Regions from separate parts of the Homo sapiens genome. Here region 2 is linked to region 1. The links come from fine-mapping of genetic effects on gene expression. Tissue or cell type: whole blood. Region 1 holds a variant in brackets; the other region holds the start of a gene. All regions are shown on one strand. Distances are from middle to middle.

The links. PIP is the estimated chance that this variant, and not a neighbour inherited with it, causes the effect.
Region 2: SBF2 starts here. The variant in region 1 is fine-mapped to the expression of SBF2 in whole blood (INTERVAL, PIP 0.95).

What each region holds. Positions count from the first base shown.
Region 1 is chr11:9,875,680-9,880,826 of GRCh38, forward strand. All of the region lies in intron 17 of SBF2 (SET binding factor 2), which reads right to left. The region is part of intron 1 of LOC101928008 (a long non-coding RNA gene); the gene reads left to right. Among named protein-coding and RNA genes, the nearest start is that of LINC02709, 120 kb to the left of the region's middle. The variant C/T (reference allele first, on the strand shown) is at 2,110.
Region 2 is chr11:10,291,545-10,296,691 of GRCh38, forward strand. It overlaps SBF2 (SET binding factor 2), which reads right to left and starts at 2,675. Exons shown (of 40, transcript NM_030962.4): 1 at 2,471-2,675. The coding sequence starts at 2,525. RefSeq lists silencers at 2,073-2,212, 2,253-2,332, 2,363-2,642, 2,763-2,812.

The sequences.
Region 1 (5,147 bases):
GCCTGGTCAATCCTCCCTGCAAGGTCCAGTTTGGGTGCTTGGAATATGCTGAATAAGCTTCCCAATTCATGGAGGGGTAGGAGAAATTGAAATTCAACTTAGGAAGCCAAAATAGATTTTTCTGCCTATTATCAAAAATTTGCAGAAGCTGCACATCTGCTGGTGTGAGACACAAATGTGAAAGTATGCAGGCACACACAAACACATAACACTCGTTAAACTTAAATCACTTAACTTGTTATTAAGTGTAAACTCACTGAGTTAGAATAAACCTCAGAGATTTTTTTTTTTTCACTAATACATGGGAACGCCAAGATAAACGGAAGAAAAGAAACATAACAAAGGTCATACAGCTAGACGGAGCAGTGCTGAAGCCAGCATCAGATGTTTTATAAGGTATTAAACGATCTGGTCACATCCTCCCTTTCTCAACTTCCTGAATACTATTCACTCCTGTAGGTGTATCCCACAGTTGAACGAGTTGAATGCTCTGTGTACTAAACATACTCTTTGCTTTCTCCCTGCCATGACATTGGTCAAGCTGTTTCATCTACTTGGAATCCCTCCTTCCAATCTCTAGTGGTTAAAATCCATTCTCCAAGGGCCTATTCAGATGATACCTCTTTCAAAATGCCCTCCCTGTTTGCTCTCTCTTTATTTACTATGTGTTATAAACTGAATGTTTGTGTCCCCCTTAAATTCATATGTTGAAACCCTATCTCCATCCAGCGTGCCCATATTTGTAGTAAGGAAGTAATTAAGGTTATATGAGGTCATAAGGGTGAGGCCCTGATCCAACAGGATTAGTATCCTGAGATAGAGAGCTTGTTCTTGCTCTTGCTCTCTCTCTCCCTCTCTCCCCACTGCCCCACGTTCTGAAGAAAGGCCACGTGACATAGTGATAAGGCAGCCATCTGCAACCCAGAAAGAAAGCCGTTCCCAGAAAGTGAATTGGCTGGAACTTTGATCTTGAGAAAATAAATTTCTGTTGTTAAAATATCCACTCTGTGGTATTTCGATATGGCAGCCTAAGCAGACTATGACACTATCTTAAGTAGAACTTTGTTGTTGTTGTTTTGAGATGGAGTCTTGCTCTGTTACCCAGGCTAGAGTGCAGTGGGGCAATCTCGGCTCACTGCAACCTCTGCCTCCTTGGTTCAACAATTCTCCTGCCTCAGCCTCCTGAGTAGCTGGGATTACAGGCGCCCACCACCATCCCCAGCTAAATTTTGTATTTTTAGTAAAGACAGGGTTTCACCATGTTGGCCAGGCTGCTCTCAAACTCCTGACCTCGAGCAATCCACCCACCTCGGCCTCCCAAAGTGTTGGGATTACAGGCGTGAGCCACTATGCCTGGCCTAGAACTTTGTTTATACTTCTTTAACAATTATTTCATTCTATTTTGTATTACATTTAGGACAGTTTTTTGCTCTAGAATGTGCTGAAATGCTATGCTACAACCTTCCTTAGGCTTGATACAAGATAAAATAGCAGCCATAATAACAATACAAAGTATTAGTATTTCTATGACAACAATGATGATCAAGGTAGAGTTTTTAAAAAATAAATAATACTCTACCGTTTTATAAGGAAATGTATTATATGAAGTAAGTTCCTGTGTTGTTCCTATTTTTGTATGCTCATTAAGAGATAATATTTTTAAAATGCCAACAATTAGGTTTTAAAAACTAAACATGAAATCATTAATTAAACCTAAATAATTTTTTAAAATTATACTTTAAGTTCTAGGGTACATGTGCACAATGTGCAGGTTTGTTACCCAGGTATACATGTGCCATGTTGGTTTGCTGCACCCATCAACTCGTCATTTACATCAGGTATTTCTCCTAATGCTATCCCTACCCCAATCCCCAACCCCCCGACAGGCCCCAGTGTGTGACGTTCCCTGCCCTGTGTCCAAGTGTTTTCACTGTTCAATCCTCACCTATGAGTGAGAACATGCGGTGTTTGGTTTTCTGCTCTTGCGATAGTTTGCTGAGAATGATGGTTTCCAGCTTCATCCATGTCCCTGCAAATGACATGAACGCATCCTTTTTTATGGCTGCACAGTATTCCATGGTGTTTATGTGCCACATTTTCTTAATCCAA[C/T]CTATCATTGATGGACATTTGGGTTGGTTTCAAGTCTTTGCTATTGTGTATAGTGCCACAATAAATTTACGTGTGCATGTGTCTTTATAGCAGCATGATTTATAATCCTTTGGGTATATACCCAGTAATGGGATCACTGGGTCAAATGGTATTTCTAGTTCTAGATCCCTAAGGAATCACCACACTGTCTTCCACAATGGTTGAACTCATTTACACTCCCACCAACAGTGTAAAAGCATTCCTATTTCTCCACATCCGCTCCAGCATCTGTTGTTTCCTGACTTTTTAATGACCGCCATTCTAACTGGCATGAGATGGTATCTCATTGTGGTTTTGATTTGCATTTCTCTGATGACCAATGATGATGAGCATTTTTTCATGTGTCTGTTGGCTGCATAAATGTCTTCTTTTGAGAAGTGTCTGTTCATATCCTTTGCCCACTTTTTGATGGGGTTGTTTTTTTCTCGTAAATTTCTTTAAGTTCTTTGTGGATTCTGGATATTAGTCCTTTGTCAGATGAGCAGATTGCAAAAATTTCCTCCCATTCCGTAGGTTGCCTGTTCACTCTGATGGTAGTTTCTTCTGCCGTGCAGAACCTCTTTAGTTTAATTAGATCCCATTTGTCTATTTTGGCTTTTGTTGCCATTGCTTTTGGTGTTTTAGTCATGAAGTCCTTGCCCATGCCAATGGCCTGAATGGTATTGCCTAGGTTTTCTTCTAGGGTTTTTATGAATTAAACCTAAATAATTTAAAAAAATCTGTGTACATATAGTCTGTCTCTTAATAGCCTTTGAGGGCAGAGACCATGTCTTGCACATCTTGGCATCAATTCAAATGCTAGGTTAAAGCATCTTAAATATAGGTACTGGAGGTACACACAATGCTTGTTAAATTCCAAAAGGTTAATTACATATTTCCCAGAGGCTTGCTTCTAAGATTATAATTTTAATTCTAATTTTATTAGCTGGAAATGTCACCCAAGAGTATAATAAAACCAGCTAACTCCACAGTCATTCAAGATGGCTCTCTGACTTCTTCCAGGTAATCTCCTGCTATCAGTACTGAAACATGCCTATGACCGAGGGTTAAGCTCATGCTTTCATCTCCCCAACACTTAAAACTCCCTCTGAAAGTGACCCCTCTTTATCTTTACGTCTCTCTTATCATGTAAAAATCTATCAGTGACAAAGAGGAACAACTGCAAAGCTGCAGAAATTAAAAACAGACCTTTTGACTTAGGTACAAAATGTTTGCACTTTGGACATAAAGGGAATTTGCTGAGTTACTGAATCAAGTATTTATAGCACCACATAATTGATTTTCTGCCATAATAATTTCTTCTGTAATTTAGCAGCTCCTCCACAAATCCCCATCAAATCTATGACTTCTCAAAAATGCTAACAATGCTGGCTAATACAAAGGAAACAGTGCCACCTAAGCAAAATTAAACTAGAATAATAATCTATTCATAAAGTTCTTTTTAGGGACACATAGTTATTAAAATCTTTGCTTTTGTTATTCACGAGTCATGAGTTTTGCATTTTCCATTCTTTTCTCAATTATGTTATTAGGCTGTATCTTATCAAAAGTATTCTAATTCCTATCTTCAGGCTACAAAGTCCTTGCCCTAAATGAAAATATTAGAGTCCACTAAAAACCAACATAATCAAGTATGCCCTGTGACTTCCAACCCCAAAAGTGGAGGATGCTGACATGCATCATCATCGGTTTTGCCATTTGCCAGCTGGAGGACCTGGGCTAAGCTTGGTGAGCATAGGGACTGTGTCTGTTTTATTTGTCAATGTATATCCAGTGACTGGTGAAGCAGACATTCAATTTATAGTTGAATTCATGTCCTGTCTTTCATTCAACAAATATTCGCTGTGCACGTACTATATGCCAGGCACTAGGTTAGGTGCTTTACATGAATAATTTCATCTTTAGTTATCACCATTTTAGAGTAGAAGAATAAAAGTTCAGACAGTTAAACATTTGTTTCAGATCTCAGGATGAGGCCAGGCTTGGTGGTTAGTGTCTGTAATCCCAGCACTTTGGGAGGCCAAGATGGGCGGATCACTTGAGGTCAGGAGTTCAAGACTGCCCTGGCCAATGTGGCAAAACTCCGTCTTCACTAAAAATACAAAAATTAGCTGGGTGTGGTGGTGCACACCGGTATTCCCAGCTACTCGGGAGGCTGAGGCAGGAGAATTGCTTGAACCTGGGATGTGGAGGTTGCAGTGAGATGAGATCGTGCCACTGCACTCCAGCCTGGACAATGAGTGAGACTCTGTCTCATAAAAAAAAAAAAAAAAAAAAAAAAAAAGATCTCAGGATGAGCCAAGATTCAAATCCAGATCTTTCTGTGGCCCCAGAGTTCAGGCCTTTTCCTTACTATACCACACAACAACAATTCACAATCAGAAGCTAAAAGCTGGAGGTTGTGAAGCTTGCATGTTATTAACTATATCTGGCTGAGTATGTGTTTTGTTTTGGCTGTCTAGGATTTTTGAAAAATGAAGCCAACATTTTAAACTGAAGAGGTTTTACATACAATCTAAATTTCGCGCTTCTTTTGAAAAGCCTAAAGATGTGGTAGCAATGTTCCTACATCCCTGTATGGCAACAACTGCTGAAGCTAAGCAGAGGCTGCCCCTTAGATGGGACATGTGCTCTTCATGTGGCCTGCTAACTCATTTGCGTTATTTGTTTGGCCCCTGTAGATTTGGTTTGTAACTTCTGCTACCTCTATGTGGATCTCTAAGTACCCTCATCAGTGCTTGTCTATTATACTAGCCTACTAAGTGGCCTCTGTTGCTCTAACCCCTCATCTTCCTATCTTCTACACTGCTCTAGTTTGTTTCTGAAACAATCACGTCACTGCCCTACTCAAGAGTATGGTATTACGTACTCCTTAGTGACCAGAGAATAATATTAGTCTAAACTCCTTAACATGACATTCTAGACATTCTGTGATTTGATTTCAAATTACTTTTCCTGTCATATTTTCCTTGTCTAATGACTGCATGGATTGCAGCTAT
Region 2 (5,147 bases), 420 kb after region 1:
CTGGATGTGCTTAGACTCTCCTATTTCCCACTCAAGCCAGTGCTTCGGGCAGGTGGGCTAGTGACTTTTTCCGAATAGACTAAGGCAAATAGTAACAGAATATAATCCACTAAACACACACACACACACACACACACACACACACACACACACAGACTCCATGTAGATGTCAATAAATGATTAAGAGTTTAGTGAGGAACAAGATATTTACATAGTTTCAAAGTACATGGCAAAAACAATTAAGTATTAACTTTACAGTGGAGAAGCCTCGCAGATATTACTTATATCAAGTAATCAAAGTAAAAATAACCAACAATGAAACAAAGTGAAATTGTGCACCACCTGACAGGATGCAGTGAGCATCACTTCTGTGATATCCTTCCCACGTGCATATTCGTATGTATCTAATCATGAAGGAACAGACAATCCCAAATTGAGGGGGCAGCCTACAAAGTGACTGACCTGTAATTGTTAAATATGTTAAGGTCATGAAAGTCAGGAGAAGATAAAGGAAATGTTCCAGATTGAGGGAGACAAAAGAGACATAACATGAATGCAACACATATTGCTAAACTGGATCCTTTTGCCAGTAAAGAGATTACTAGCACAATCAACAAAACTTGAACCAGTCTGAGAACTAGATGGAGTACTGTATCACTATCCATTTCCTGTTTTGGTTATTACACTGTGATCATGTAGGAGAACATTCTTGTTTGCAGAAAATGCACATTAAAGTATTCTGGGATGACAGGGCATCAGGTCAACAGCTTCCTCTCAAATTGTTGGGGGGCGGGTAGAATTTTTTGTACCATTCTTGCAACTTTTTTGCAAGTCTGTTATTGTTTCAACATTGTTGGCCGGGCGTGGTGGCTCAAGCCTGTAATCCCAGCACTTTGGGAGGCCGAGGCCGGTGGATCACGAGATCAGGAGTTCAAGACCAGCCTGGCCAGGATGGTGAAATCCCGTCTCTACTACAAATACAAAAATTAGCGGGCGTGTTGGCGGGCGCCTGTAAATCCCAGCTACTCCGGAGGCTGAGGCAGAGAATTGCTTCAACCCGGGAGACAGAGGTTGCAGTGAGCCAAGATCGCACCACTGCACTCCAGCGTGGGCAACAGAGCAAAACTCCGTCTCAAAAAAAAAAAAAAAAAAAATTGTTTAAAAGTGGGGAGGGGGGGAGGCGGAACAATGTCACTAAAAACTAAAGGTTAAAAAACTGATTTCCCACACTTAATCTTGATAGAAAAGAAACATCAGACTATGCCAAATTACTAGGAAATAAAATTTTGGATCCAGAAGTTTAAACATTTAAACTTTCTCTTTAACAATTGACCTCAATCAGGTCATGACTGGTGAAAGAGAAAAGAACATGAAAGGTTCCCACTAAAGGAGAGGAAGTTCTTAGGAGAGGAATAATGAAAGAGAGAGTGGACCAAGAGTGGGTAGAACAATGGTATTCTGAGCTACCAATGGCTGTAACCATCAGGAAAACACAATCTCAGCATCTCTGAAAAATGAAGGGGCTGTAGAGCTGATATCTCAAATTCCTTGCAAATGTGGGACTAGAATTGCCCTAAAATAGAAGTGGTTTCCCAGCTCAATTTGTTATTACATTATGCTTAGCTACATAGTAATACAAGAGAATACAAATACAGAAATAAACGTGCATGAACCCTGAATTCTCTTAAGTTGTGGAAGTCCGTCAATTAAAGTGTAAAATACAATGCATTTGCCCAATTGTTCCTTACGACGAAAATTCTGTGACAAATAAAAAGAACAATGAAAACACATTAAAGTGAAACAAGATCACCTTCAGCGGTCAGCTGGCTGTCCTTAGTTAAAAGACAAGTCATGTCACTGTGAAGTGACCGTCACATTTGTCCTGAAAGAATAGGGAGCATTTCCTAGAAAGGGGTAAAAGTGCAAAGAATCCTGTCCCCTTCCCTGGTACCACGCGTTCCTTGGGGAGGTCACTAGGCCCCCAACAGCACAGGGGTGAGTTAGCACTGGACTCTCAGCACTTCCTTTCGGAGAGGACAACCCCCTGCGTCACTGGTTACTCACTCAGGATGCAGGGCAGAAGTTTATCCCCGAGGAACTTAGCACAGTTGGCTCCCGCCCTCCCAGCCTTGCGGTCCTGGGCCCAATCTCAGGGCTCTCTCTGCCCCGGGTACCCTGCAGCCTCCAGCGGGAGGGTCGCGAGACCCCAACTCGCCTCCGGCCCGCCCAGCGGGTGCGCCCAGGGGCTGGGCAGACGCGGCGTCTTCCCTCCCCCTACCGTCGTGCCGGCCCCCCCACGCCCACCGCCAGGCTCAGCCCAGCCGAGAAGGCCGGACGCCGACCGCCCGCTCCTCCGAGACTCGGCCTGGCCCTCCCCGACGCCCGTCCCCGACGCCCGGCCCCGCGGAGCCCACTGGACAGCGGCCGGGGGGCGGGGAGGCCCGGGGGCGGTGCCGCCCCACACCCTTACCTGGCTTCTCGTGGTCATAGCCTACCACGATGAAGTAGTCAGCCAGCCGGGCCATGGCCGCCGCCGCCGCGCTCGGGAAGCGGGTCCCCGTCGCCGCCCTCGCCGCCGCCGCCCACCCGGCCCGGGAGGGCTCAGCATTTTCCCTGCAGCGGCAGTAGCGGCAGCGGCAGCGCTTCAGCCATGTTTGACAACCGAGGCGCGCTCTGCGCTTGCGCGGCGCCTAGTGCCCGCTCCTCCCCCGCCCCCACCCGCGCTGGCTCGGCTGCCCCAAGCCCGGGCGGCGAGCCCACCTCCACCCTCCGCGGGCCTCGCGGACTGCTGCGCTGGGGGAGTGGGCGGTCGGGCGTGTTCCCGCCACGCGCCGCCACCGCGGCCCCTGGAGGTGGTTCACTTTGAGGCCTGGATGCTGCTTCACGGCCCCCTCTGCCTCCCTATTTTTCCTAAAGCAGGGGGTCCTTCCTTCCGCCTTCTCTATTCTGTTTGGATTTGGAAGAAGGGATGTGGAGAGTTGAGGGGTCACTTGGAAAGCTGGCTGCTTCCTCTGCTCCCCACCACCACCAAAGATGAAATTCTCCCGCCCTCGGTTGGAAGCAAGGAATTTGCATCGACAGGGCTTTTGCTGCACGTTTCCTGTTTATGTTGTGTAGATGGGAATTTTAGAAACATGCCACCGAGCAGACGGGGGAGGGAGAGGCTTTTACGCAATCCTCCAAGGAGCCTCGGGTTTCAATGCCGGGTGGGCCGGGGGCGGTCGGCCTGGGCTTCCCCCGGAGCGCCCGGGAGAGCCAGATTCCACCGAGGAACGCGGCATCCCCGGGATCCTCCCGAACTGGGCTGGCCTCTCCCTGGGGAGCCCCGCACGCCTCGGCTTGCTTCCCTCGCAGCGGTCCCAGGGCTCTCGCAGCCCGAGCAGGTGGACTTCCAACTTCCCTGCTCAAACATGCACAAAAATGAATAGATGGTCCCGTCCTTCCGTCTCGGGATTATCAAAGTCGCTTGCTTTTTTGTTGAACCTCCTATTGACCATTTCGAATTTGGCTGGTGTGACATTCAGGTGAACTCACTTTGTCATTTGTTAATATCTCACGAAGTTTTAGTAGAATTTGTACAAGTGGTAGACCAAAGTTTTGGAAATCTCCGTGGTTTAGAAGTTGTCTTTGTGGTTGCTTATCACTGCTCACTATTAATTGAGGGTTTGATCCTTCATATTTACACATAAGACAAGGCCTCTTAGCAAAGCGTCTAGTATATAGTAGGTGCCTACAAAATATTTTAAATGAGTAAATGTGCGATTTTCCCCAACGACCAGCAGGAAGCCGCAATGGCTCCAACTCTGAACTGAGAGAGTTGACATCTCAGCTCCTGAAGATTTACTCTGCTGTAATTTACTATTTCCCCTTTCTCTGCCACACTTGTTTCATCTACAAATTGGGAGGGTTGGGCTGCACTAGAACTGAAACTGAAGGAATACTTTAACTCCAGGACCTCTATGTCAGTTGCTAATGGTAAAACTGAATCAGCTGAATTTGCAAACGTGGAGGGAAGATAGTTTGATCCTGAAAATAATTAAACCAAAAAAAAAAAAACCTCAGTCATACCCCGTGCAGCAATCCTCTCTGTAACTTCCCTGAGAGCTCATCATCCAACTTGATCACTTTCAGTAAAAAGTAATCTTACTTCCTTGGGAGGCAGCGCATTCCACTGTTTAACAGCCCTATTGTTAGAAAGTTCTTCCTTATTATTTCAGAGTTGTCTTACTGTAACTTCCCCTGATTCTGCTCTCCGGAACTATCCAGAAAAAAAAAATCTATCTTCATATGATAGATTTTTAAGGCAGCTATCATATTCCTTCCCAACTTTTCTAAAAATAGGGCAAAATTCACATATTGTAAAATTAGCCACTTGAAAATGTAGAATTCAGTGGCAATTAAGTACATTCCCAATGCTGTACAACTACCATGTCTATCTAGTTACAAAACATTTTCATCACCCAAAAGAAAACCTCACAACCATTAAGCAGTCATTCTCATTCTCCCCTCCCACAGCCCCTGGCAATCACCATTTTGCTTTCTGTCTCTATGGATTTACCTATTATGAATATTTCATATTCATATCATACAATATGTGGGTTTTTTGTGTCTTGGTTTTTCTCACTTAGTATATTGTTCTCAGCTTGTTTACGGGCAGATACAGTACAAGGTTGTAGCATCACATTGAAGTATCAATACTTCATTATTTTTTATGACTCAATAATATTCCATTGTATATTGTGTTAGACTGTTCTCACGGTGCTAATAAAGACATACCCGAGACTAGGTAATTTATAAAGAGAAGAGGTTTAATTGACTCACAGTTCCACATGGCGGAAGGCAAGGAGAGCAAAGCGGCAGACAAGAGAGCTTATGCAGAACTCTCCTTTATACCATCAAATCTCATAAAACTTATTCACTATCACCACAACAGCAGGAGAAAGACCCGCCCCCATGATTCAATTACCTTCCACCGGATCCCTCCCATGACAGGTGGGAATTATGGGGTACAATTCAAGATGAAATTTGGGTGAGGACACAGCCAAACCATATCATATGTATATACCATATTTTGTTTATCTGGAACAACCCATATGGACATATGGGTTGTTTCCACCTTTTGGCATTGTGAATAGTGCTGCTTCAAA